2 separate regions of the Homo sapiens genome follow, and region 2 is linked to region 1. Evidence: fine-mapped expression QTL. Tissue or cell type: tibial nerve. Region 1 holds a variant in brackets; the other region holds the start of a gene. All regions are shown on one strand. Distances are from middle to middle.

Region 1 (10,441 bases):
AGCCTCTGGGATTTGGGGATGGGGCAGCTGGTCTGAGAGGCAGGGGAGAGACCAAAGGAGCCATGTTCAGACCCTCACCTTGGGCATCCTTTCTTGGCCAGACGAGACCATAGCAGAAACACTCCTCCTAGATGTCCTGAGAAGAGATATAAAGGAGTTGTTTTCCTTTGTATGCATAGATGATGGTACTGTTACTAGCACTATGGGTAGTTTGTACTTCATCCATGTTTTTTCTCCTACTTTGCCTTATAGCCCAGATTATATAGTCTTTGACCAAGTAACAGTGAAGTCAGTTCTTAAGGACATCTGCTGGGCTATAGTAAGAGTGTATCACTTCACCCTGAGGACAGCAGATATGCACCCAAATGAGTGTTCTACCGTATGCTAATAGGTATAGGGTGTGTCTTAATGGCAGCATCTGAACTGCTAGGAAAGATAAATCTGTTTCAACATTGAACACACACACACACACCAATCCCCATCGTTGTGCGGTTGTATAGATCCATGCTAACTAGTTCAGAGGGGACTGAGAGGCGTCCTATGGACTTTCTTTATTAGCTCTCACCTATCTATTTTTTCAATTTGGAAAATATGTTTTTAGATCTACTGTGCTCCAGGAGCTCCTCACAGCTCACTAATATCTTTCTAAGAACTTTCAGAAACAGGAAGTGACCTGTCTTGATTTTGTTTTCTCTGAGGGTGCAGTGCCAAGGCAACGGAGTCCTTATATCTGGCACGAAGATTACCGAGAGCAAAAGTACCTTGATGAACATCATTATGAAAACCAGCACAGTCCATTTGGAACAAATAGTGAGACCCACTTCCAGTAAGTGTGAAAGGAGAGGCCAGTTTGACATGATGTTGTCAAACTCAGACTATGTCGGGCAAATCTTCTGGCGTCTGATGCTGCCATCTCACCTCCAGAAGCCCATGTACCTTTGTTGTAGCCACAGGGATATGGGAATATCCCAGGATGGGCCTGGCCAGCTGTTAATATGGACCCTGGGAAGGGAGGTTCTTATCACTGACAGTCTGTTCCCAAAGCTGGGCGAGTCTGAGTCCTGTGAGGTTCCTTGAGGTCTGTCCTAAAAGAGGACTTTAATTCTGTGTTGGCCTTAGAACAGATATGGCCTAGCAAAAGTTCTCACGATTAGGTCATGAGAACTTACCTGGTGCTGTGGTGCTTTTCCTCAGCCTACGCCTGAGCCCTGAGAATGGGCCATCTCCCTGTGGTAAGACAAGACAGGGAAGAGAGTTTTGCTCAAGCATCTGTCCTGGTGCTTGCAGCTGTGGAATTCACCAACCTAAACACTCTGATGTAAGTCATTCCAGAATGTCAGGCTGTAGAGACCAACCCTTCTCATCAGGGCCTGAGGCCACTTCCAGCCACTGAGCTGTGGAACTCCAGCACTCCTGTTTTTCTGGGATTAGTAGATTGAGGTGGTGAGTAGGAGGAAAATGCTTTCTCCTATGGCACCCAGGCTGACATGGTACCTGCCCACGCTTTGGAGCAGGTCAGCTTCCGGCGGAGAGTGCCTCAGCCTTGCTGGCTTGCCCAGGACCCCGCTCACTGCTCCTGTCATTTTGCTGCAGATCTAACAGTAGGAACCCTTGTAAAGACAGCCCTGCTTCCAACTCTGGACAGGAGTGGCCGGGGGAGCTGTTTCCAGGGAGCCTGCTTGCTGAGGCCCAGAAAAATAAGGTAACCTAAAGTGACGTGGGGGCTGGAGACTGTGGCCATGTGTCGCAGCTGACACTGTCAGCAGTGGCAGAACAGGGCCCTTGGGGATGGATGTCCAGTGGCCAGCCGTCTGGAGGACCCATTCCTCCCCTCTTGGCAGAACCTCCGCCCATGCCTTCCTTTTTTCCCTCCTTACTGCCTCAGTCTTAGGCATCCGAGGCCCTGAACTGAACTCCTTTGCATTTTTATCAAATTGACAGGATCAAGAAATGTCACCTAGCTCACTCCAACATACTGGGAAAGAGAGGACGCTGTCATCAGGTGTTAGGTGTTAGGGACCCCAGGGGACTAGCAATTTGGTTTAATCCAGGAAGTGGGAAATTGCTAGAATCTTTGAATTCAGGTTTGAGAAGCAGGGCTTGAAACCTTTTCTAACTCTTCATTCATCCCTTTCCTCTAAAAATCTTATTGTATGCGCCAGCTGGGCCACAAAATGGAAATCTTTTTTAAAATAAACTTTTTATTTTAGGATAATTTTAGATTTGTGGAAAATTTGCAAATATACTACAGAGATGGGTTCTTTTCTTTTGAGACAGAGTCTCACTCTGTTGCCCAGGCTGAAGTGCAGTGGTGCAATCTCGGCTTACTGCCACCTTCACCTCCTGGGTTCAAGCGAATCTCCTGCCTCAGCCTCCCGAGTAGCTGGGATTACAGGTGCCTGCCACCATGCCCAGCTAATTTTTGTATTTTTAGTAGAGACCGGGTTTCACCATGTTGGCCAGGCTGGTTTTGAACTCCTGACCTTGTGATCCACCCACCTCGGCCTCCCAAAGTGCTGGGATTACAGGCCTGAGCCACCACGCTCGGCCAGAGATGGGGTTGTAATTTTGAAAGTCTTGTATTAATCTTGTCTCCCTTATTAGGTTTGTATGAGGTCAATTTCTTTTGTATACTTAGTGCTTAATAGAGTAGGGCACATATTATTATGACTAATAGTAACAATACAATGACAGCAGCCACATACATATGTACAGCACCTTACACTGTACAAAGAGCTTTACTTTTTATTTTATTTTATTTTTTTGAGACAGAGTCTCACTGTGTTGCCCAGGCTGGAGTGCTGTGGCACAATCTCGGCTCACTGCAACCTCCGCCTCCCTGGTTCAAGTGATCCTCCTGCCTCGGCCTTCCTAGTAGCTGGGACTACAGGTGTGCACCACCATGCCCAGCTAATTTTTGTATTTTTTAGTAGAGATGGGGTTTCACCATGTTGGCCAGGCTGGTCTGGAAATCCTTACCTCAGGTGATCCTCCTGCGTCGGCCTCCCAAAGTGCTGGGATTACAGGTGTGAGCCACTGCGCTTGGCCCAAAGAGCTTTTGAATCCATTATTTTACTTGTATGCACACAAGATGTAAATTCAATGAATTTCTTTATTTATTTATTTAGAGACAGAGTGTTGCTCTGTCACCCAGGCTGGAGTGTAACAGCATGATCATAGCTCACTGCAGCCTTGAACTCCTGGGCTCAGGTGATCCTTCCACCTCAGCCTCCCAAGTAGCTGGGGCTATAGTTGTGCACCACCATGCCCAGCTAAATTTTTTTATGTTTTGTTTTTTTGTAGAGATGGGGTCTTGCTATGTTGCAATTTGGGGTCTCAAATTCGTGGGCTCAAGTGATCCTCCTGCTTTGGCCTCCCAAAGTGCTGGGATTACAGGTGAGAGCCATCATACCTGGCCCCATGAATTTCTTTACACCTGCATCCAAGGGGAAAGCACAGTACCTGGAGCATAATAGGTGCTCATTAAACAGTCAATGAAGGAGGGCCAGGCATGGTGGCTCACGCCTGTAATCCCAGCACTTTGGGAGGCTGAGGTGGGCAGATCATAATGTCAAGAGATTGAGACCATCCTGGCCAACATGGTGAAACCCCATCTCTACTAAAAATACAAAAATCAGCTGGGCGTGGTGGCGTGCCTGTAGTCCTAGCTACTTGGGAGGCTGAGGCAGAAGAATCGCTTGAACCCAGGAGGTGGAGGTTGCAGTGAGCCGAGATCATGCCACTGCACTCCAGCCTGGTGACAGAGTGAGACTCTGTCTCAAAAAAGAAAATTGTTTATGAATGAATACATGAATTGCTTGAAGTATATAGGGCAGATATGATTATATCACAGATGAAAGCACTGAGCTCAGAGAGCCTAAGTCACGTGTCCAGGGGCACAGCAGCTGAGTATAAGGCAAAGCTGAGATTTCAATTCAAGGGCCCCTGACCCCAAGGCCTGCACTCTTTCCATTGGGTCATAATATATCCTTTGGCAAATGCCTATCAACTTGATTATCTCTTTTTATCCTTTCAACACATCCACTTTCACCGTATGTATTTTGTTTCTTTGAAGGAACGCTTGAGAAGACCAGCTCTCTGAAACTTCTTCCTGTGTGTTTTTGTTTTTAACTTTCAGCCATCATTGGCTAGTGAGTCCAACCTTCTCCAGCAGCGTGAGTCTGGTCTCAGCTCCAGCAGCTATGAGCTCAGTCAGTACATCAGAGATGCCCCGGAGCGGGATGATCCCCCAGCTTCAGCAGCTTGGAGTCCAGTTCAGGCTGGTGGGTTCTAAAATGATCAGAAGAGTTGATTGAATCTGATGTGGAAGGGCTGGGTGGCAAGTCTCTGGGAAAGTCAGCCTTACGATGGATCATTGTCCACCTCATTTGCTTATGTAGGTCACCTGGGCAGAGAGGTCAACTTTGGTTCCATTTTCTCTCTTTTTGCTTGTAATAGTAATTGCATCATAGCTGATTCCTGGAAGGGAACACTGCCCCTATCCATTATCAAGTTGGGAAAGGAGGCACTCAGTGGTGCTTTTAAGAAAGGGAAGACCAGAGAGAATTAGGAAAAGCAAAAGCAAGATGCAAAGCTTCATTGCTTTGTCTGGATGTAGGAACTTTGTCATGAGTATAGAGGCCATGAAAGCCAGAGACTCCTTGGCCTCTCAGCATCACTGAGAGTCTGGGCTGAGAGCATTATCATTTGGACTGAATCATCAAGCCCACGCATTGTATTCTGACACCTTCTCAGAGGCTTAAATCTGACTGGAGCAGGGAACATGGGCTTCTTCTAATTACACAACCCACCCAGAATCTTATTTTGGTTCAGGCAGAATTTGGGCAGAAATACATCTGTGGCATATTCCTAAACTAAAGAAAAGTGATGGAAGTAACGCTAACAATGTCCATCTGTGTCTGTTGGTCAGAAGATGTCTCCTCAGCTGGTCCCAAAGCACCCATGAAGTTCTACATCCCTCATGTTCCTGTGAGTTTCGGGCCAGGAGGTCAGCTGGTGCATGTAGGTCCCAGCTCTCCCACTGACGGGCAAGCAGCCCTTGTTGAA[C/T]TGCACAGCATGGAGGTAAAGAAGACCCAGTGTCCCTGGAATGCTGGCACACTGCTTACCCAACTACTCCTAACATGCTTACCTTGCTTTCCTGTGCCTGAGCCGGGGCATCTCCAGGAATGGGATGCTCTTGCGGGAAACTGGGCCATGTACCCCCTGGATTAGGAGGGTGCAGGAATGGGTGGGGCTCTTCTCTGAAAGAATTGATGCTACAGTTGTGTTTTTCCTGAGATGTCAATGTCTCATCTTTAGCAACAAAATTCACTTTTTTCTTTCTGCTTTCTCCACAAGGCCTTGAGCCATATCCTAGCCCCACGGCCTTGGGGTCTGACACTAGACTTGACTGAAAGGGGCCTAGGGTGGCCACAGTCTTAAACACAAAATCTGATTGTTTTATTCCAGGTTATTCTTAATGATTCCGAAGAGCAAGAGGAGATGAGAAGTTTCTCAGGACCCTTGATTAGGTATAGTGCTGTAAGAGCTGCTGAGTAAGGGCTTTTGAAACCTAGAAAATCTTCCTGCCCAGATCAGCATTTTGGAGATTTGTTCTTGGTTTCCTTGGAAAAAAATATCTGTCCTTGTTGGAGTGGAATTCTCTGTGCTGCAAGATAGAACCAGATGTGGCCTGAGTCATTTTGACAAGCCATTCAATAGTTGAAGGACAGAAAGAAAAATTAGCATGACAGTTTAGAAATCTAAAACCAGTTCCATTATGCAGAGGCTGCATGGTTGGAAGTTTTAGCATTCCGTGTGCTTGATAGATGTTAGTAGAAAAGTGGAGCATCGCCTGGGAAGTCACTGACAAGTGGATCATAGCAGAAACAATTCTTGTAACAGTGGCTTTTTCCTGGAGAGGTAAATAAGATCGGCAGTGTTCAAGTTACAGAACAGTGTGCAAGTGAGCCCTCTGCAGTACTGAACTAGGACTGCTTTTAAATGTCTAGTTATATTTCTGATAAATGTAACTCAGGGCATCTTTGTTGAGGAGAGAGTCCTTGCTGGATGACAGCCCACGTGGGTCTCAGGCTCAGGCGTCTTACTGACTAGGAATACCATGGTGGACAGGTCAGTTAGCCCTCTCTGAACCTTAGTTTTCCCCTTGAGAAATGGTATAACACCTGCTCTCCCTACCCGAGGCTTGTCTATGAGTCTCAAGTCAGATTATGCACATGGAAAGTATCATCACTACTATATAAATGTATTCCTCAAATGGCATTTGACGGTTCCCTCAAGTAAAAATGAGTGTTATCTCTTTCTTACAAACAGGTATACAGATATGGGGCAAAAAAGCGAGTTGGGTATTCAAACACTGGGGTACTAAGCCTAACTTGGCTTTGATGTTATTGGATAATCTTGAGCAAATCATAATGCCAATCATATTGATCACTTAATATATGCCACACAATTTTCTAATTCCTTTTTGTATGGAGGTAGGTCCTTTTACTGTCCCTATTTTAGGGGACAAAGCTGAGGCTCAGAGGAGGTAAGAAACTTGTCTAAACAGAGAAGTGGCAGAGCCAGATTTAGATCCAGGGTTGTCTGACTCCAAAGTCTGCTTTTACTTGCTTTCCTGTGCAGTGACTTCAGGTCTCTGAGCCTCTGTTTCTTCATCTATAAAGGGGGTGCATGAGAGAATCTCTGAAATTTCTTCTTGTTCTATAAGAAAATAACTATCCTATAGCTATAGACTCATTACCTTAGCCCTGGCTTGTCAGATTTCTATCTCAATCACAGCCCAGCCAGCACTTGCACACTTAGGAGGAGCCTGGGGTCCGAAACAGGGAAGTGTCTGCCTGCTCACTCTTTGCTCCCTAAATTTTTTCCATGTAGGGAAGATGTACATAAGGTGGATATTATGACGTTTTGCCAGCAGAAAGCAGCTCAGAGCTGCAAATCTGAGACACTGGGGAGCAGAGACTCAGCTCTACTGTGGCAGCTCTTGGTTCTCCTTTGTCGCCAGAATGGGGTAAGTTCTGTTCTGGTGGGAGAGCAGGTGCAGGCTGAAATTTAAGTCTTCATGGGATAGATAAGATTATGTTTATGACATGATTATGAAAAGCAATATTAAAGAAGCCACAAATTGCCCCAAGGGAAAAAATTGCTCAAATGTCAATGCGAGTTTGCTAACGCAGATCTTCCCTGATGATCTTCTTCCTTGGTCTGGGAAAATTGTACAGTTTCTGGGTTATTGCACCAGCCAGATAATATACCTGTGAAATTGTGAATGTTTCTGGTAAGCTTTATGGCTCCTGACAGGCAGAAAATAACCATGATAGTGATGCTGAAGTCTGAAATATAGCAATCTAACAAAGGACTGCCTTATGTTTGCATAATTGGCTTCCATGTGAAGAAGGCAGGCTCCCTGGTGCCTTCCTTCTCCAGCTGGGGCTGCCAGCCTGAGGACTCATAGGATTCTCCCCAGATGATCCTCTTTGCCTTACAGTCCATGGTGGGGTCTGACATCGCTGAGCTGCTAATGCAAGACTGCAAGAAGCTGGAGAAGTACAAGCGGCAGCCCCCTGTGGCCAACCTCATCAACCTGACCGATGAGGACTGGCCAGTGCTGAGCTCTGGGACCCCGAACCTGCTCACGGGAGAGATCCCCCCCAGTGTGGAGACACCTGCGCAGATCGTGGAGAAATTCACTAGGCTGCTCTACTATGGAAGGAAGAAGGCAAGTATGCCCTTCCCCCATACTTATTTTGAAAAAGCAATCACCATCCCTCTCCACCACTCACCGCTGCTCAAATTATGTGAATAGTATATACTCATTTCAGGGAGGATGCAAGAAGTTCGGAAAGACAGAACAAAGAAAATGAAAACACCCATAGTTCTACCACTAAAAGACAATGAACTATTAAATGAAATAAGCCAGGTACAGAAAAACAAACATCACATGTTCTCACTTATTTGTGGGATCTAAAAATCAAAACAATTGAACTCATGGAGATAGACAGTAGAAGGATGGTTATCAGAGGCTGGGAAGGGCAGTAGGGGAGGGTGGGAGGGAGGGTGGGTGGGTTAATGGGTGCAAAAAAAAGTTAGAATGAATAAGACTTAGTATTTGATAGCACAAAAGGGGAACTATAGTCCATAATAGCTTAATTGTACATTTAAAGATAACTAAAAGAGTATAATTGGGTTGTTTGTAACACAAAGGATAAAGGCTTGAGGGGATGGATGCCCCATTTATCAGGATGTGATTATTATACATTGCATGCCTGTACCAAAATATCTCATATTTTTTACTCCATAAATATATATACCTACTATGTACTCATACAAATTAAAAATAAAAAAGATAATACCTGTTAACATTTTGATACATTTACTTCCAGCATTTTCCCATGCATATATATTAAAAAGAAAATAAAATTGCATATACAGTTGTTTATTTCTCTTTTTAAACTTAAGATGATATGGTAAAATACCCTCATGGCATTATATATACCCCAATAGCGCCATTTAAAAAATAGTTATACAATATTCCATCATATTAATGTATCATATTTTATTTATCTATTCTACTATTATTGAATATTTAGACTATTTATAATTTTGTCAACCACTATAAATTATACCATTTACACATCTTGTTACATAAGTCTTTGCCTGATCTTTTAAATTTTTTAGGGCAGATTCCTAGAAGTGGAATTATTGGGTATATAAAGGGCATGCACTTTTAAAAGGTTCTTTATATATACACCAAATTAATTTCCAGGAAGTTTGTTTACAAATACTCCTGCTGCTATATCTAAGGCTTCCTATCAATATTGAATATAGATGCTCCATGACTTACAATGTTTACATCCCAATAAACCCATCATTAAATAGAAAATATCATAAGTTAAAAATGCATTTGATACACCTAACCCGACATCATAACTTAGCCTAGCCTACCTCAAATGTGCTCAGAATGTTTACCATAACCCACAAAATCATCTAAGCCAGAGTCTGTTTTATAATAAGGTGCTAAATATCTCATATAATTTATTGAATATGCTACTGAAAGTGAAAAACAGAATGGTTGTATGGGCACTTGAATTACAGTTTCTACCGAATGTGTATTGATTTCACAGCATTGTAAAGTCAAAAACTCATAAAGCAGGGACTGTCTGTACTTTAAACAGATGAAGATTGATTTCTAGCTTAATTTTGAAGTTGAGATTATGCTTTACAAAATTCATAAAAATTTAAGTATTTGGATAGATAATTAAAATCAATTTGAATCAATTTAATTCAAAAATTAAAATATAAAAAAGATATACTTGGGAAATGATGCTCCCACCCCCTAGTCACCCAGTTTTCCTCTCAGAAATATCCAGAGAAATTTTATGCATATATTGTTATTTTCTCTTTTCTAAAAAATAGCATGCTGTATACCATTTCTGTACCTTCCCTTTTTGATTTTACAAAATACCTCAGAAAACACTCTATATTAGAGTTGCCGAACTTTTTCTATAATTGGACAGATGTAAAAAATGTAAAATGTAAACATTTTACATTTTGCAAGCCATGGGGTCTCTATTACAACTACTCAGGTCTGCCCTTATAGTGTGAAAGCAGCCACAGAAAATATGTAAATGAATGGAGGTGGCCGTGTTTCAGTAAACTTCATTTTGGATATAGAAATTTGAGTTACCATATAATTATAATGCATAATGAAATTAAAAAAAAATTTTTTCCAATCACTTAAAAAGGTAATAACTATTCTGAGGCTATGGCCAGTACCAAAATAGGCAGTGTGCTGGATTTGGCCTTTAGGCCATATTTTGCTGACCTCTGCTCTATAGCCTATATAAATGCCTTTCTCATTATTTCTTATGTTGGCATAGTTTTCTACTGATAAATTATAATTAATTTAACTAAACCCCCTATAGCTTGACATTAAGAGTACTTCCAATCTTTTGCAATTACAATGTTGCAATGAATAATCACTGTCATTTTGCCCACTGTGAGAGAATATATGTAAGATAAATTTCCAGAGGCAGAAGTGTTGGGTCAAAGGATATAGTTTATGATTTTGATAGATATTGACAAATGGCCTTTTAGAGATTGTGCCAATTCACTCTACCAGCAATGCAAAAGAGTGCCTGTTTTCATACATTCTCACCACAGTGTGTTTCAAACTCTTTGATAGGTGCCAATCTGAGAAGTGAAAAAATGCTGGGCGTGGTGGCTCACGCCTGTAATCCCAGCACTTTGGGAGGTGGGCGGATCACTTGAGGCCAGGAGTTTTGAGACCAGCCTGGGTGACATGGAGAAACCCCGTCTCTACAAAAAATACAAAAATTAGCCAGGCATGATGGCATGGCCTGTAGTCCCAGCTACTTGGGAGGCTGAGGCATGAGAATCACTTAAACCTGGGAAGTGG
Region 2 (10,441 bases), 77 kb before region 1:
TATTGGCATTGAGTGGGGTAAGGGTGATTAGGTTTTAATGGGATGGTAAGAGGTGCATAATTGGACGCCAAGGAGGGAGTAGAGGTGCCCTATACTTGTGGATTAAGGTGGGGAGGTACAAGGGGAGGAGGCGAAGGAGGTGTTGAACTGGGGAAAAGGGTGTAAATGAGGTGAGGCTATAGGCTAGGAATAGTCAGGGAAGCAGATAATTTAGTTAAAATGTCTCAGCCTAATAAGGGAGCTGGGCAGGTGGGGATAACTAAAAAGGAGCGCATAAAAGAATGTTGTCCAAGTTGGCATCAGAGTTGGGGAGTTTTAAGGGGTCTAGAAGCCTGGCCATCAATACCCACAACAGTTATGGAGGCAAAGGAAATAGGCCCTTGAAAAGAAGGTAATGTGGAGTGAGTAGCCTCCATATTGACTAAGAAGGGGTCGGACTTACCCTCCACTGTGAGAGTTCCCGAAGCTCGGCATCTGTGATGGTCTAGGGGGGCTTCCAAGGCAATCGGGCAGCATCAGTCTTCAGCTGCTAAGTCAAGAAGATCTGGGAAGGAATCAGTCAGAGAGCCTTGGGCCAGAGTTCCAGGGGCTCTGGGAGTGGCTGCCGGGTAAGTTGGACAGTCCAATTTCCAGTGGGGTCCCGCACAGATGGGACATGGCATAGGAGGAATCCCAGGCTGCAGGCATTCCTTGGCCCGGTGGCCAGATTTCTGGCACTTGAAGCAAGATCCTGGGGCAGGCAGTCCTGGAGGAATGCCTGGCCGCCGCAGTTTAGGCATTTGGAGTTCTTGTGTGCTGGAGATGTGGCTGGGGTTTGTCTCACGGTGGAGGCAAAGAATTGCAACTCAGAAATACGTTGCTACTTGGCTGCCTCTACTCTATTATTGTACACCTTGAAGGTGAGGTTAATTAGGTCCCGTTGTGGGGTTTGAGGGCCAGAATCTAATTTTTGGAGCTTTTTCTAATGTCGCCAGTGGATTGGGTAATAAAATGCATATTGAGAATAAGACGGCCTTCTGGCCCTTCTGGGTCTAGGGCAGTAAACCGTCTAAGGGTTGTTGCCAAACGGGCCATGAACTGGGTTGAGTTTTTATATTTGATGAAAAAGAGCCTAAACCCTGATTTGGGAGAGGTCGGAAAAAGGAGCATTTACCTTGGCTATGCCTTCAGCTCCAGCCACCTCTTTAAGAGGAAATTGTTGGGCAGGTGGGGGAGGGCTAGTGGAGGAATGTAACTGTAAACTGGACCGGGTGTGAGGAGGGGAGGTGATAAAAGGATTATAGGATCGGGGAGCGGAGGCTGAGGAAGAATTGGGACCTGGCTCAGCCTGGTGAGGAGCAGCCTGGGTAGGAGGGGAGAGGTTAGATGGGTCTGTAGAAAAGGAGCATTCAAAGGACTCAGAGCTTGGGGTGGAGACTGAAGGAACAGACCGCAGAGAAAGAAGAAAGATTTGGGATGAGTCGCATTGGGAGCAGAGACTAAGGAGGGACCAGTGTATGAAACAATGCCTGGATGTCAGGCACATCAGACCCATTTGCCCATTTTTCAACAAAAATCATCCAGGTCTTGTAAAATGGAGAAATCAAAAGTGTCATTTTCTAGCTATTTAGAACCATTATTGAGTTTGTATTGGGGCCAAGCGGTGTTGCAGAAGAAAATAAGACGCTTAGGTTTTAGGTCAGGCGAGAGTTGAAGAGGTTTTAAGTTTTTGAGAACACAGGCTAAGGGAGAAGATGGGGGAATGGAGGGTGGAAGGTTGCCCATAGTAATGGAGGTAAGTTTAAAGAGAAAGGTAGAGACATGGAGAAGGGAGTAGGTGAGCAGCCAAAGCAGGTGTCCCCGCAATTGACTTGCCACCAAAGGAATGTGGGTGAATGACCAAGGCAGGCGTCCCCGCGGTGATCAGACACCAATGGAGTGTGAGTGAATAATCAGGCAGGCGTCCCCGCAGTGATTAAACACCAAGGGAAGACTGTCTTCCCAAGTCCGTGACTGGCGCTGGAGTCTACAGATAAAATGTGTTTCCTTTGTCTCTACTAGAGAGGAAAAAGAACTGGAGTTGGAAGGACTGGGAGATTGAAGGGTAGCGAGAGAGGGAGATTGAAGGGTAGCAAGAGAGGCTGGAGAAGAGAGTGAAAAGACCGCTTACCCAATTTGAAATTCATGAGATGTTCCTTGGGCTGGTTGGTCTGAGGACCCGAGGTTGCAGGTGGATCTCCTCAAGGAGTGAGGGCGAGGACAGGGGAAGGGGACTGGTCTCCCGAAGGAGTCCTCCTGTCCCGGGTTTCAGCACCCAATGTCATGCACGTCCATGTGAGGAGACCACCAAATAGGCTTTGTGTGAGCAACAAGGCTGTTTATTTCACCTGGGTGCAGGCGGGCTAAGTCCGAAAAGAGAGTCAGCAAAGGGTGGTGGGATTATCATTAGTTCTTATAGGTTTTGGGGTAGGCGGTGGAGTTAGGAGCAATGTTTTGCGGGCAGGGGGTGGATCTCACAAAGTACATTCTCAAGGGTGGGGAGAATTACAAAGAACCTTCTTAAGGGTGGGGGAGATCACAAAGTACATTGATCAGTTAGGGTGGGGCAGAAACAAATCACAATGGTGGAATGTCATCAGTTAAGGCTATTTTCACTTCTTTTGTGAATCTTCAGTTGCTTCAGGCCATCTGAATGTATATGTGCAGGTCACAGGGGATATGATGGCTTAGCTTGGGCTCAGAGGCCTGACAATTATCTTGCCCAGGCTGTGAGCTCCTGGCCTCAAGCGATCCACCTCCCTCGGCCTCTCAAAGTGCTGAGATTACAGGTGTGAGCCACTGCACCCAGTTGCTCACTGTTATTTGGCAACCAGAATGTTCACTTTGATGATAACATTAGTATTTCTCCATTATTCCTGGTTTGATTTTATATGTCTAATGATTAACAGTTCACAAAGTGCTTTATTGTCTCATTGGAAACACAAGTTTTTTCAACTTCTCAGCTTCTAGTCATTGTTCTAGTCTTCCTCTTGTGGGAAGGGGGAGAGGACTAAAATGACTTCTCAAATTCCTTGTGAGTGCTATTAAAATAACAGTAAGCTCTGTTGTATATCCAAGGTGAGGACCTTGCTCTTGTACTCCTTTTCCCCAGAGCCTTTAGGCTATAATCTCAGAAGTTCATTCCTACTTCATTTTTGCTCTCCATTTTCCCTTTATTCCATTCCTGATCATGCCTTCCAGGTCATGCTCTATCTGGGAATTCTGTTTCTGTCAAAAAATAGAAGGAATTTAGAACTTAGGGATTATTCTGCCCGATGTGTTCATTTTACAGAGGAGTTCACTGAGACAGAGAGCCAAGAAATGTCAATGTTAAACCCGCAAATAAGTGGGAGAGCTGGGCTTGAACCTGAGACTACTCTTCTGCCAGATGTCTTTTAAAGACATCAGGCTGTCTTTAAAAGTTACCTGTCAAACGAAATATTCTCTCCAACATAATGTGTGCTTCTCTTATATAGCTAGCCTATAAATATTTGGTTACTGTTGCAATAGAGATCTACCCAATTTTATAATATTTCACAGATTATATTGTATATTTTCAATTCTTCCAGAGTGTGCTTATTCGCCTAGTGTGAATGGTCTGTGTTGGTCTTCGAGTCAACAATCATTTATTGAGCATCTACTATGTGCCAAGCATAATACTGGCATTGGGGACATGAGAACCAATGCTCTTCCACTCTCCCCGTGGTGGGTTTTGGTCTGATTTTAACTGGAAGTATTATTTGGATTTGTGTAGGCTCATTCAACATTGGATCATTAGTAACTCTTTGGATTTAGTGTAAATGGTCCTGCAAATGTGAGAAAATTAGTAACAAGAATTGAACTCTAACAAGGTGTTCAAATGCTGACTTTAAAGCCTTCACCTAGGCAGGTGTGGTGGCTCACACTTGTAATCCTAGCACTTTGGAAGGCTGAGGCGGGCAGGGCGCTTGAGGCCAGGAGTTCGAGACCAGCCTGGGCAAAATGATGAAACCCGTCTTTAAAAAAATACAAAAATTAGCCAGATATGGTGGCGCACAACTATAGTACCAGCTACATGGGAGGCTGAGGCGGGAGGATGGTTTGACCCTAAGTGGCGGAGGTTGCAGTGAGCCGAAATAGTGCCACTACACTCCAGCCTGGGTGACAGAGAAGGACACTGTCTCAAAAATAAATACATAAATAAAGCCTTTACCTGTGCATTTAGGATTTTTTGCACTGGCAGAGGACCCAATAACCTTTATCTATGTATCATCTGTCTGTCTGTCTATCTATCTAATCGATAGAGAAGGTCTCACTCTGTCACTCAGGGTGGTGCGATCATAGTTCACCGCAGCCTCCAACTCCTGCACTCAAGCGACCCTCCCGCCTCAGCCTCCTGAGTAGCTGAGACCACAGACACTGGCCACCACCCGCCTTGGCCTCCAAAAGTGCTGGGATTACAGGCGTTAACCACCCAGCCAAGAACCACTATTTAAATGTCGCCAAGTGTGGTTTAAAAAGTTTCCCAATTTTGAGGGGGGCAAGGGTTGAAAAACTATTAGGTACTATGTTCAGCACCGAAGTGACGAGATGATTCGTACCCTGAACCTTAGCATCACACAATATACCCAGGTCACATCTGCACATGTAGCCCCTGAATCTAAAATAAAAGTTGAAACTACAAAAAAAAAAAGTCTCCCAAATTTGTTATAAAAATGCCAAAGAAGGTTAATCTCGGGTAATCGAATTCCGTTTCCTGGTGTTTTCCTTTATTCTTTTTTTCTTCCAGCCGGCTCCACCTCCAGAGAGGCCCAACAGGGAGCTCGCGCGGTCGTTTGGTCTCGGCGGCCGTAGAAGCCGGGCGCACTGGACCGGAGCTGCCCCGCCGGGGTTGGGTCGTGGCTGCCAGGGCGCGTCGCCAGGAGGCCTCGCGGGCCGCCCTTCCGCTCTCCCGGGGCTGGGCGGCGCTGTCCGGCTCTTCCTGCCGCGCTCTGGCCACTCCCCCTCGCCCCTCGCTGGGCTTGGCCTTGGCGGCCGTGCTCTGCAGGCAGTGCCTCCCTCGGGCGTGGGTCTGCAGGTGCAACCCCGACTCCTCCCTGAGCCCCGCAAGGCAGTCCCAGGGTGCTCCCGGCGGGGCTGCCCGACTGACCCTTCCCTTGTTTTGTGTTGCAGGAGAGCCGGACAGGGCAGCGGCCGGCACTACCGCGCTGCGATTTGCGCAGAGCTGAAGAAGCCCCTGACCATTGAAGAGGTGGCCCCCGCCCCGTCGGGCCTCACGAGGTAGGGGGCTGGCTTATCCCCTTCTACCCTCCCCTTCTCCCCGCCACCACACACTCCCCGCAGGCTTCCTTCTTGAATCAAGTTCCCAGTTCTGAAGCGAGGGGGCGACCGAGAGAGTGGAGGGCAACTTCGTCCTGGGATAGCTAGGGGGCTGAAGCCCTTTCCAAGGTCTAAAGTGCTAAAGGAAGATTGTTCCCCCAAAACACGCCTATAGGCCTCTTTCTCAATGCTCAGAGCTGTTGCCTTAGAAACAGAGAATTCTGATTTGCACACGACTTTGTATGTGCAAGTTATTGGTTTAACACAGGTACATGGACCTCATCCTTTGCTTCCTTCCACCTCAGTGCCGGAATCGAATTATTCGGCCTCTGCCTCCCTGAAACCAGCCCGGTAACCTCCGTGTTTCCATGTGAACATACGCCTCTGGTATATTGCAGACATTTGGGATGGGGTTCGTTTAGGGATGTGGGCAGCTGGTCCACTGAAATGTGGACATCATTTTGGCCTTGCCTATTGACCACTCTAGTAACACAGTGTCATCTGGTGTGGAGATGAGAACCTCAGACAGCGTGAAGCAGATAGTGGGCCTCAGTGTTGGAGACCTTCAGGGAGAGGGAGAAAGGCAGCCATAGCCCTGAAGTGTTACCAGCATGGAGCCTGTTAACTAACATGGCTAACACGGATTATTTGAATGAGCACATGATGGCAGCCAATCTACTTCCTGGGATTCACATGCTGAACGACATTCATCCTCAAATCATCCTTAAATCTAGGTGGAGTGGCTGGAGAACACATGTGTGCCCTGTGCATGCCTGTCAATAACTGATGTGTCCTGCATGGAATGTGTCCAGGCTGAGGGCTAGGCTCCTTTGTTCTGTTATTTGTCCTAGACATTGCATTGTAAGGAATTAGCCCATGAGAGCTGTGACTATGTTTGTTTTACTCACTACTAAATCCCTTAAGTCTAAAATGGTTCCTGGCATGTGGCAGAGGCTTAAAAAATTGTTGAATGAATGAATTTTGTAGATAAAAATTTCTTCTCACCAATATGGCCACCTCTGTACAAACAAATCAATATCATCCCTTTGGTGTCTCAGCTTTCATTTCTTCCAGTAATTCCAACCCCTGTTGGGATGTGTTGGTTTATGACAGTGGTTGTCTAGCACAGCGGTCCGCAACCTTTTTGGCACCAGTTCTGTGGAAGACAGTTTTTCCATGGACTGATGGGGGTTGGAGGGGATGGTTTTGGAATGAAACTGTTCCACCGCAGATCCTCAGGCATTAGATTCTCATAAGGAGTGCGCAACCTGGATCCCTTGCCTGTGTAGTTCACAATACGGTTCGCACTTCTGTGAGAATCTGATGCCGCCACTGATCTGACGGGAGGCAGAGCTGGGCGGTATGCTTGCTTTGTCTGCTCACCTCTTGCTGTGCAGCTGGATTCCTGACAGCATACCGGTCTGTGGCCCCGGGGTTGGGAACCCCTGGTCTTGAGGCTTGTTAAAACAGAACGCTAGGCTTTGTCTTCAGAGCTTCTGATTCAGTAGGTCTGGGATGGGGCTTGATAATTTGAATTTCTTTTCTTTTTTTTTTTTTTTTTTGAGATAGGGTCTCACTCTGTCACTCAGGCTGGAGTGCAGTGGCATGATCATGGCTCACTGCAACCTTGACCTCCCAGGCTCAAGCAGTTCTCCCACCCCAGTCTCCCAAGTAGCTGAGACCACAGGCACATGCCACCATTCCTGGCTAATTTTTTAATTTTTATTTTTGTAGAGATGGTTGCCCAGGCTAGTCTCGAACTCCTGGGCTCAAGTGATTCTCCTGCTTTGGCCTCCTGAAGTGCTGGGATTACAGGCATGAGCCATTGTGCCTGGCCTGTGCCAGGTGATACTGATGCTGGTGGTCTGGGGCCACATTTTGAGAACCGTGGGCTTACAAGGCCTAGAGAAACTACTGGCTACACTGCTGTAGGTCTGCCTCAGCTATGGCACTATCACAAAACATAGAGGCTGGGGATCTGGGACTAGGGTAAAGGATTCCAGATTCCCCAAAGAGCTGATCATTTTACCCTTCTGTTTAAAACTCATTAATGACTTCCCATTGTTCCTAGTATGAAAATTAAGATCTTCAGTAAGGAGGCCGGATGCAGTGGCTCACGCCTGTAATCCCAGCACTTTGGGAGGCTGAGGCAGGCGGATCACGAGGTCAGGAGTTCAAGACCAGCCTGGCTAATATGGTGAAACCCTGTCTCTACTAAAAATACAAAAAAAATTAGCTGGGTGTGGTGGTGCATGCCTGTAATCCCAGCTATTTGGGAGGCTGAGGCAGGAGAATTGCTTGAACCGGGGAGGCAGAGGTTGCAGTGAGCTGAGATCATGCCACTGCACTCCACCCTGGGCAACAGTGTGAGAGTCCGTCTTAAAAAAAAAAAAATCCTCAGTAAGGCTTCAAACTCTCTTGTGTCCCCACTGTAGTGTCTTTGTACACGCCATTGCTTTTGTCTGTGCCAAGGCTTTTGCCTCCTATTTTGAATAGTTAACTCTCAGTTGTTAGTTCAAAGTGTTGCTTACTTAGGAATGCTTTTCCTGACTTCCCTAAGTGGTCAAATCCTTCCATTATGTGCTTTCATAGCACCATATATTTTTTATCATTAATGCTTGGTACTGGAGTTATAACTTAATATATGTATCTTCATTATTATCTGGTTAATATCTGTTTTCCCTCCTATACTTTAGCTTCATGAAGGCAGAGGCCTTGCCCATGAGTGTGTGCCAGCTGTTACTTTAGTACCTGGCATGTTGTTGTCATTCAGTAACTATTTTGGTATGATTGAATAAACATTGTCTCCGTGGATGTGTACTGTTCTGCTTTGCTGCTCTATTTCTTTTGTAGGTCAGAGTTGATGTCCATTTCTGTGGAGTTAACTTTGGTGATATTTTGATCTGCCGTGATCAATATCAGGAAAGGCCCCATCTTCCCTTCACACCTGGTGAGTATAGGGAGACCAAGTGACTGCTTCAGGAAAAAAAGATACAGGGAGTTTTCAGAATCATGCCCCTGGGCTCAGGCAGTGCTCTGTTGGTGTCTGCCTGCCATCGGTGATGTTTCAGTTATATGTGTCCATCTCACTGTGTATTGGGATCACTGGATTGTGAGCCCCATGAGGGCAAAGTCTATGCCTGTCTTGATCAACATTATATCCCCCAGCTTAGCATTGTACGTGGCTCTTAGTAGGTGCTCAATAAATACTCTAAAAATGAAGAAATGAACAAATGAATTTTCACCAGAATTATCATTGGTCCTAGCCATTCATTCCCTTTCCTTGCTGGATATTGCCCCAGTTTTGTTTCTTCACTGAAGGATCACAGACATCTGTTTGCAGCTAAAACTTTCAGCCTCACAGACACATTCCCAATAAAACCTAATGCCAGGCCGGGCATGGTGGCTCACGCCTGTAATCCTAGCACTTTGTGAGGCTGAGGCGGGCGGATTGCCTGAGCCTAGGAGTTCAAGACCAGCCTGGGCAACAATGGTGAAACCCTGTCTCTACCAAAATACAAAAATTAGCCGGACGTGGCGGTGTGCGCCTGTAGTCCCAGCTACTCGGGAGGCTGAGGCAGGAAAATTGCTTGAACCTAGAAGGCGGAGGTTGCAGTGAGCCAAGATCATGCCACTGCACTCCAGCCTGGGCAACAGAGTGAGACTCCGTCTCAAAAACAAAACAAACAAACAAACAAACAAAACCTAATGCCAAAGGATCAGAGAGAAGAAGAGTGTGGATTTCTTAGCAGCCCTCTGCCTGATTTTTGTTCCCAGTCTACCCCTAGATCCTGCACATGTGGACAAGTGACTGATTTTTGTTGTTGAAATTTATTTAAAGGGATGTAAGTATAGCTTAGCATGTATATAGTACATGTACATTTTATACAGATATATATCATGAAAGATAGAGTGATTGCAAATAGTTACCGTGTTTTGTTTTCAGGGTGTTTGATTGTATCTCGACAGTTAGAACCATTTCCTTCTGTTTATATTTGCTGAAATACTGGTTGGGGGGAAGATGTCATACACAATTGAGTTATTCCCCTGGCAGCTCAAGTAGGAAACATCATCATTAATTCAGAAATTTCAGAGGTGAAAAAGGAAAGGGCAGACAGCACCAGTTCATCCAGTTGAGCCAAGTACTGTCTGAATAAACACAGTTCATGTCCTTGAGGGCCCTACAGGCCAGCAGAAGAGACTTGAAAACAGATAAATAAATAGGATGAACATTGTCACTGGGGTGCTATAGGAGGTCCCAGTGATTAGGGTCAAAAGTACCTGTGTACCTGTGATTCTCTGTGCTTTTGCACATTCTTGAAATTTTCATTTGTGTCATGGTAAGATTGAGACTGCTATAGCTTCCCAGGTTGTGATGGTGAAATCTTATGTTTACTTTCCTGTGCTTTGAGTATAACACCTTACCTCTCTACCTGCATATGGAGAGGAGGAGGGGCACCTAAATCCTCAGCTCCGAAAGCTGTTGGAATAGCCTGTCGATCAGTGTTTTCTCATCTCCATGGTGTTGTGTTTTACAGATAACCTAATCTTTAAACAATATGTTTTTAGGAATGGACTTTTCTGGGACAGTATTGGAGACAGGCACAGATGTCAGGACAGTTAAAGAGGTAAATTAATTGAAGTCTAGGGAATCAATGTATATGTAGCTATGAAAAATATGCTAACTTCATTTGTAGCCAAAGGGTCTTGCTTCTACTGGCTTTTGCCTGCAGACACCAAAGGGAAACCTAACTAGAAAGGTAAGAAACAAAATTCTTTCTGGGGAAAGGAAGTAATTGGAAGTTCCTGGCTTCATTAAACTTTTCATTATGAATAAAAGGCGGCACCTCAGTCTTTAACCAAGAGGACAGAGAATTTGATTCTCTTGTGAAATTAAGAGTGGGCTTCTAATTCAAATCAACCTTTCCCTTACTCTCTCTCTTCGTCTCAAATGTGCTCACTCAAATTGGCTTCACAGCCTGGTGGTGGTATTGAGAGAGTTATTATTTTATTTACTAAACAGTAACTCTGAATAATTAAGACCAACCTGTGTCTTATGGAGTCAGAGATGTGCATTTTTTTTTCTTTTTTGATTAATTCAGGAAAAGGAATGCAAGGTCATACA

Which allele goes with the higher level. Positions count from the first base shown, and alleles are read on the strand shown. Sizes are in standard deviations (SD) of each study's normalised expression.
For the expression in tibial nerve of the gene that starts at base 4,995 in region 2, C is the low allele of the variant in region 1 and T is the other (large effect, 0.79 SD a copy in GTEx).

What was found. PIP is the estimated chance that this variant, and not a neighbour inherited with it, causes the effect.
Region 2: it holds the start of CRYZL2P-SEC16B, and the variant in region 1 is fine-mapped to the expression of CRYZL2P-SEC16B in tibial nerve (GTEx, PIP above 0.99). The same link has a PIP of 0.9 or more in adrenal gland, aorta, atrial appendage, cerebral cortex, coronary artery and esophagus muscle.

Annotation. Positions count from the first base shown.
Region 1 is chr1:177,955,432-177,965,872 of GRCh38, reverse strand. CRYZL2P-SEC16B (CRYZL2P-SEC16B readthrough) reads left to right here. Exons shown (of 32, transcript NM_001356506.2): 10 at 706-826; 11 at 1,594-1,702; 12 at 4,139-4,283; 13 at 4,934-5,082; 14 at 5,470-5,531; 15 at 6,898-7,033; 16 at 7,511-7,741. SEC16B (SEC16 homolog B, endoplasmic reticulum export factor) reads left to right here. Exons shown (of 26, transcript NM_033127.4): 4 at 706-826; 5 at 1,594-1,702; 6 at 4,139-4,283; 7 at 4,934-5,082; 8 at 5,470-5,531; 9 at 6,898-7,033; 10 at 7,511-7,741. Among named protein-coding and RNA genes, the nearest start is that of SEC16B, 9.4 kb to the left of the region's middle. RefSeq lists an enhancer at 5,579-6,080. The variant C/T (reference allele first, on the strand shown) is at 5,068.
Region 2 is chr1:178,032,530-178,042,970 of GRCh38, reverse strand. It overlaps CRYZL2P-SEC16B (CRYZL2P-SEC16B readthrough), which reads left to right and starts at 4,995. Exons shown (of 32, transcript NM_001356506.2): 1 at 4,995-5,074; 2 at 5,170-5,277; 3 at 8,170-8,266; 4 at 9,886-9,944. It also overlaps the pseudogene CRYZL2P.